Homo sapiens: one gene and its partner. The protein of the gene in region 1 purifies or fractionates together with the protein of each later gene. This does not show direct contact. Each region holds a gene or a part of one and is shown in the gene's direction. Other genes may lie near its edges. The genes, in order: TLR6 and TLR4.

Region 1 (3,825 bases):
GACTCCCTTTGTCCCAGGGAAAGCCACTAGGTGCACTGTGCTTCCTGTTTCCTGGGATGCGGGGCATTGCATGGGCTAGAGTGCTGGGGACCTAGCTGCACTGCTGATCTTAGCTGGCATTACAATGCTGTAGCCCTCTAGGTGGACGTAGGAGAATATCAGTGGGGCTTCAGGGGTGTGGAGATTCAGGGTTGTTGGGCCCCAGAACAGGATGTGTATGGTGAGGGCTGGGCTCTTAAAAGAGCCTTATGCTGAAGCTGTTTGGGTCTCAGGGTATGGGGTATGTGGGACCCAATGTGAAGTCCCATTGTGGAACAATGTGATTGCATATATTCCAGACAGCCCCAGGGCATGTGAAGGCCAAGGAGCTAGCTCATGGCTAGGATTACAGGAGTCCATAGTGGAAACATTGACCTCTGAAGATCTCTCAGTTAAACTTTCCCTGGAATGGGAAGTTCCTCCTGGTTCTGAGCTAGTCCCAGCTGGGCTGGCTGCTTCACTTCCCTCTTCTCCCATGCCTCAGAGGTGCACTGTCACTTCTCCGCTGAATTCCAGTGTTCTCTCTTAGATGCTCATTCAATGTGTGATTATCTGCTCACTGTTTTGGTCCTTCTTTGCAGAGGGGGTGAGGGCTAGGTGCCTCTATTCAGCCATTTTAATGCTTCTCCGGCTCATTTTTTAATTGTTCAATAGTATTTTATTGTGTGAATGTACCAGTTTGTTAATATTTTTATCTATTGAGGGATATCTTGTTGCTTCCAATGTTTGACAGTTATGAATAAAGCTTCTATAAACATCCACATGGAGGCTTTTATGTGGACATAAATTTTCAGTTCTTTTGGTTAAATACCCAGGAATGTGATTTGCTGGATTGTGTGATAAGACTATGCTTAGTTTTATAAGAAACTGCATTCCATAGTGGCTGCACCATTTTGCATTCCCACAAACAGTGAAAGAGAGTTCTTGTTGCTCCACATCCTCACCAACATTTGATGTTGTTTTTGGATTTTACCCATTCTCATAAGTGTAATGTAATTTCATTGCTGTATTAATCTGCAAAACCATGATGAAATATGATGTCAAATAGCTATGTATATGTGTATTTGCTCTTTACATATCTTCTTTGGTGAGGTGTCTGTTTAGATTTTTGTGCCCATTTAAAAACTAGGTTGTTTGTTTTCTTATTGTGGAGCTTAAGAGTTCTTTGCATAGTTTGGATACAAGTCCCTATCATATATGGGTTTTGCAAATATCTTCTCTGAGTCTGTGGTTTGTCTTTTTCACTCTCTTGCAGTGTCTTTTGCAAAGCAAAAATTTTAATTTTAATGAAGTCCAACTTAACAGTGTTTTCTTTCTTGGATTATGTTTTTGATGCGTATCTCAAAAGTCATCACCAAATCCAAAGTCACCTAGATTTTCTCCTATGTTATCTTCTGGAAATTTTATAGTTTTGCATTATACATTTAGGTCTATGGTTAATTTTGAGCTGATTTTTGTGAAAACTGTAAGGTCTGCGTCTAAATTCTTTCTCTTCTTCTTCTTTTTTTTTTTTTGCATGTGGAGGTCTAATTGTTCCAGCACCATTTGTTGAAAAGACTATCCATTCTCCACTGAGTTGCCTTTGCTCGTTTGTCAAACAGCAGTTGATTATTTTTTTGTGGGTCTATTTCTAAGCTCTGTATTCTGGTCATTTGACCTATTTGTCTATTCTTTCACCAAAACCACACTGCCTTGATTGCTGTAGCTTTGTAGCAAGTCTCAATGTTAGGTGGTGTCAGTTATCTGGCTTTGTTCTTTTAATTTCTTTTTTTTTTTTTTCCTGTGAATGAACAATACTTTCTGTTTCTTTGCATGGCTAATTTTTTTAAACAAATAAATTAGAGATTCCTTTAATGCCAAGTTACACAATCAAAAAGATAACAATCTCTTTCCATTTGCTTTTTGCAAGGTTTGTGTTATTTCAGGGCAAAACGTAGAGCAAGTCCACTGGCAAATCTGGGGGCTAGTGATTATTTTGTTTTGATTTTTATTTTTTTAAATCAGACATTTTAAACACTACAATGAGGTAACTCTAGAAATCAAATTCTGTCCCCCTTTCCCAGAGGTGTTTTATTTATTTATTTATTTATTTTTTGACAGGGTCTCATTCTGTCACCCAGGCTGGAGTGCAGTGGTGTAATCACAGCTCATTGGAGCCTCGACTTCCTCGGCCCCAAACAATCCTCCCACTCAGCCTCCCAAGTAGCTGGGACTATAGGCACACGCCACCATGCCCAGCTAAGTTTTGTATTTTTTGTAGAGATGGAGTTTCACTATGTTGCGCAGGCTGGCTTTGAACTCCTGGACTCAAGCAATCCACCTGCCTTGCCCTCCCCAAGTTCTGGGACTATAGGCTTAAGCCACTGTGCCGGGCCTCCCTTTCCCAGGGTGTATTGTTGCTTCTTGTGGCTTATAGTTGCTTGTTTAATGACTTTTCTAAATAATTTTTATAAAGATTATTCTTTGTCATGTGTGGCTATTACATTTTCTGTCCAGTTAGCTTAGTGGTCAGCCAGTAACTTGAGATTTCTTTAAACATCTGGAGCAAAAACAAAAACCAAATAAACTAGCAAAAGCAAAAACAAAAACACCCCTGATCTTTGCAGGTTGGCTGTGTTGGATCACTTTCTCAATGCTTAGCCAGTCTATTCACAGCTCTGCTTTAGCCTTCACTTTCTGCATGCATGGAAGCTAAAGATGAGCCAGAGGTGAAGTTTAGGATTTTCTCAGGTCTCCTCTGAACATGCGTCCAGCCTTGGGCACGTGAGTGGACTTCTGGACTCCCTGGTATATACAGAGATTTCCTCAGCCTTTTTTCTCCCACATATCTTTCTCCATATATCTTTGCATATTTCCCAGACTTTTTGATGTGTCTGCTGCTTGCCCCCTCTGTTAGCCCTTGCTCAGGTGGCTGCAGCTAGTATGTTTGCCTTTAATTGTTTACAGCAAACACCAGCCAGAAGGCTGTTCCAGCCCTGAGAAAGTTCTAAGGTGTACAAAACAAAGGCAAGCCCCTGAGTGTGAATCCCTCAGGCAGCAACCAGACAGGTCAAAACACACAACCACAATTCTTTGATAACAAGGCCTATATTGCCCCTTCTGGCATGAGCAAGCTATATAACTGGTTATAAAAAGTATTACATTAAATTATGGGGACAGAAATGACTCTACTAGTGAATGAAGAAATCATTTAGATTTTATGGTTAGTAAGTGGAGGTTTGAGAGTAACCATCCGATCTTTATTAATCTTAGTGTATATTATATTTCTAGAATTTGGACTCATATCAAGATGCTCTGAAGAAGAACAACCCTTTAGGATAGCCACTGCAACATCATGACCAAAGACAAAGAACCTATTGTTAAAAGCTTCCATTTTGTTTGCCTTATGATCATAATAGTTGGAACCAGAATCCAGTTCTCCGACGGAAATGAATTTGCAGTAGACAAGTCAAAAAGAGGTCTTATTCATGTTCCAAAAGACCTACCGCTGAAAACCAAAGTCTTAGATATGTCTCAGAACTACATCGCTGAGCTTCAGGTCTCTGACATGAGCTTTCTATCAGAGTTGACAGTTTTGAGACTTTCCCATAACAGAATCCAGCTACTTGATTTAAGTGTTTTCAAGTTCAACCAGGATTTAGAATATTTGGATTTATCTCATAATCAGTTGCAAAAGATATCCTGCCATCCTATTGTGAGTTTCAGGCATTTAGATCTCTCATTCAATGATTTCAAGGCCCTGCCCATCTGTAAGGAATTTGGCAACTTATCACAACTGAATTTCTT
Region 2 (3,825 bases), on another chromosome or scaffold:
ATAGGAGATTCTGAATTAGGGCAAGCACAAAAGATAGCACAATAGACATCCTTTGCCTTTTCGTACAGTGTTCACATACAGTAACTCAACTAGTCTTGTAAGAATGCTTTGTGATAGACCAGGCAGCCTTCTTTCCCCTATAGAAATATATATATATTTCTTTTTATAGGTGAGGAAACTGAAGCTTGAATAATTTAAATGACTTATATACATTATCATTGCTTGTTAGCCACAGACCAGAGATTTAAGTTCACATCTCCAGAATCCAACTTAAATGTTTTCTTTGTCTTAATACTCTACTTCTCTAAAGTGATTATCACCAATGTAATGATATAGAGACACAGCAAGACCCTTTCCTTCTCACCTAATGTATAGAGCAATGCAGAGATAGAATGATGGGCTATAACAATCATATAATTGAAAGAAAGAACTTCAAAAATAATCAAGTTCAGCTGTTTGATTTATAAATGTGATAACTAAAACCTAGAGAGGAAAAGAGGTACTCAAGATCACACAGTAGGAGAGGACTGCAGAAACACCAAACCCAAGCTCTTTTGTCCACTCTTCCAGCGTTCTTTCTACTATACTGCCTATCCTTTATCTAGTTACCAATAAATAACAAAAGCTTGGACCACAATGCTTTTATTGTCTAGGAAACTCCTGAAGAAGCTAAATAAAATGGGTGGGGAATATTGTAAATGTAATTCAGGCTGGATTAAGAAAGAACTTATTTGTACATTGTAACTGACAAGCACCTGCAATGCTGAAAGGAATTTTTCATTGGCTTGCTGTTTGCTGGCTGCATCAAAGCCCTGTCTCTAGGACATGTCTCTGAACATTGTGTGTAGCATGGCTTTCATTTCTTTTAGGATAAAATTCAAAACCCTTTATCTGGTTGGTAAACCTCTGCCTAATTGGGAACCTTCTTTCTCCACAACTCCATATTGTACACTCCAATTTCATCTCTGTTCTCCAACCATGGAAGCTATTTGTCATGATTCCTCCTTGTGTCATTTTTTTTCTGTCAACCTTGGGGCTTTTGTGTTTGCTGTTCACTTCACCTCCTTTTATTGTTAACTTCTACTCATCTTTCAATTTTCAACTTAAGTGTTCTCAGAGAAACCTACTTTGATTTTCTTGGTCCACAACGGTTCTCTGGATGTGAACTCTTATAGCACATAATTTTCACTTTTTTCCACAAAACTCGCTCCTATCACCTGTTACAAGCATTTACCTCTGATAACAAGAACTTTCAAATATCTAGCTGTCATGTAAGCACTTTTCATAAACATTAAGAGTATCTGTGACACTTATGTGTAATTTTTCGTATCTCTGAAATTGATATTTACCAGTCATTTATCTTGGCTACCAACTAACAACTATCCATATTATCTGTACCAATCAGATGTATAATCACAATTTTGTGTGACAGAAAATGGCTAAACTTGATCCAAGGCTATTACATGCTTTATCAACTGCACAATCTTTATATATGTCAATTATTGATCTTTAACTGATTTCCTTCTTATGGATTTTCTCCTCTGCTTATCATGTATGCCTAACATGACAAAAAAGAGCCTATCATTGCAGCCAGTATGATAATACTCAGTCTGTGGGGCTTCTTATTTGCTTATTCCATCATCATCTGTCCTGCTTGATGTCTTTGCCTATGCACAATCATATGACCCATCACATCTGTATGAAGAGCTGGATGACTAGGATTAATATTCTATTTTAGGTTCTTATTCAGCAGAAATATTAGATAATCAATGTCTTTTTATTCCTGTAGGTGTGAAATCCAGACAATTGAAGATGGGGCATATCAGAGCCTAAGCCACCTCTCTACCTTAATATTGACAGGAAACCCCATCCAGAGTTTAGCCCTGGGAGCCTTTTCTGGACTATCAAGTTTACAGAAGCTGGTGGCTGTGGAGACAAATCTAGCATCTCTAGAGAACTTCCCCATTGGACATCTCAAAACTTTGAAAGAACTTAATGTGGCTCACAATCTTATCCAATCTTTCAAATTACCTGAGTATTTTTCTAATCTGACCAATCTAGAGCACTTGGACCTTTCCAGCAACAAGATTCAAAGTATTTATTGCACAGACTTGCGGGTTCTACATCAAATGCCCCTACTCAATCTCTCTTTAGACCTGTCCCTGAACCCTATGAACTTTATCCAACCAGGTGCATTTAAAGAAATTAGGCTTCATAAGCTGACTTTAAGAAATAATTTTGATAGTTTAAATGTAATGAAAACTTGTATTCAAGGTCTGGCTGGTTTAGAAGTCCATCGTTTGGTTCTGGGAGAATTTAGAAATGAAGGAAACTTGGAAAAGTTTGACAAATCTGCTCTAGAGGGCCTGTGCAATTTGACCATTGAAGAATTCCGATTAGCATACTTAGACTACTACCTCGATGATATTATTGACTTATTTAATTGTTTGACAAATGTTTCTTCATTTTCCCTGGTGAGTGTGACTATTGAAAGGGTAAAAGACTTTTCTTATAATTTCGGATGGCAACATTTAGAATTAGTTAACTGTAAATTTGGACAGTTTCCCACATTGAAACTCAAATCTCTCAAAAGGCTTACTTTCACTTCCAACAAAGGTGGGAATGCTTTTTCAGAAGTTGATCTACCAAGCCTTGAGTTTCTAGATCTCAGTAGAAATGGCTTGAGTTTCAAAGGTTGCTGTTCTCAAAGTGATTTTGGGACAACCAGCCTAAAGTATTTAGATCTGAGCTTCAATGGTGTTATTACCATGAGTTCAAACTTCTTGGGCTTAGAACAACTAGAACATCTGGATTTCCAGCATTCCAATTTGAAACAAATGAGTGAGTTTTCAGTATTCCTATCACTCAGAAACCTCATTTACCTTGACATTTCTCATACTCACACCAGAGTTGCTTTCAATGGCATCTTCAATGGCTTGTCCAGTCTCGAAGTCTTGAAAATGGCTGGCAATTCTTTCCAGGAAAACTTCCTTCCAGATATCTTCACAGAGCTGAGAAACTTGACCTTCCTGGACCTCTCTCAGTGTCAACTGGAGCAGTTGTCTCCAACAGCATTTAACTCACTCTCCAGTCTTCAGGTACTAAATATGAGCCACAACAACTTCTTTTCATTGGATACGTTTCCTTATAAGTGTCTGAACTCCCTCCAGGTTCTTGATTACAGTCTCAATCACATAATGACTTCCAAAAAACAGGAACTACAGCATTTTCCAAGTAGTCTAGCTTTCTTAAATCTTACTCAGAATGACTTTGCTTGTACTTGTGAACACCAGAGTTTCCTGCAATGGATCAAGGACCAGAGGCAGCTCTTGGTGGAAGTTGAACGAATGGAATGTGCAACACCTTCAGATAAGCAGGGCATGCCTGTGCTGAGTTTGAATATCACCTGTCAGATGAATAAGACCATCATTGGTGTGTCGGTCCTCAGTGTGCTTGTAGTATCTGTTGTAGCAGTTCTGGTCTATAAGTTCTATTTTCACCTGATGCTTCTTGCTGGCTGCATAAAGTATGGTAGAGGTGAAAACATCTATGATGCCTTTGTTATCTACTCAAGCCAGGATGAGGACTGGGTAAGGAATGAGCTAGTAAAGAATTTAGAAGAAGGGGTGCCTCCATTTCAGCTCTGCCTTCACTACAGAGACTTTATTCCCGGTGTGGCCATTGCTGCCAACATCATCCATGAAGGTTTCCATAAAAGCCGAAAGGTGATTGTTGTGGTGTCCCAGCACTTCATCCAGAGCCGCTGGTGTATCTTTGAATATGAGATTGCTCAGACCTGGCAGTTTCTGAGCAGTCGTGCTGGTA

The links.
Region 2: the proteins of TLR6 (region 1) and TLR4 purify together in Homo sapiens (co-immunoprecipitation; one study listed by IntAct). This does not show direct contact.

What each region holds. Positions count from the first base shown.
Region 1 is NC_000004.12:38,829,022-38,832,846, reverse strand, and holds part of TLR6 (toll-like receptor 6 precursor), read left to right. Parts: intron 1-3,309; 5' UTR 3,310-3,373; coding exon 3,374-3,825. UniProt on the Homo sapiens protein: Participates in the innate immune response to Gram-positive bacteria and fungi. Specifically recognizes diacylated and, to a lesser extent, triacylated lipopeptides.
Region 2 is NC_000009.12:117,710,600-117,714,424, forward strand, and holds part of TLR4 (toll-like receptor 4 isoform A precursor), read left to right. Parts: intron 1-1,789; coding exon 1,790-3,825.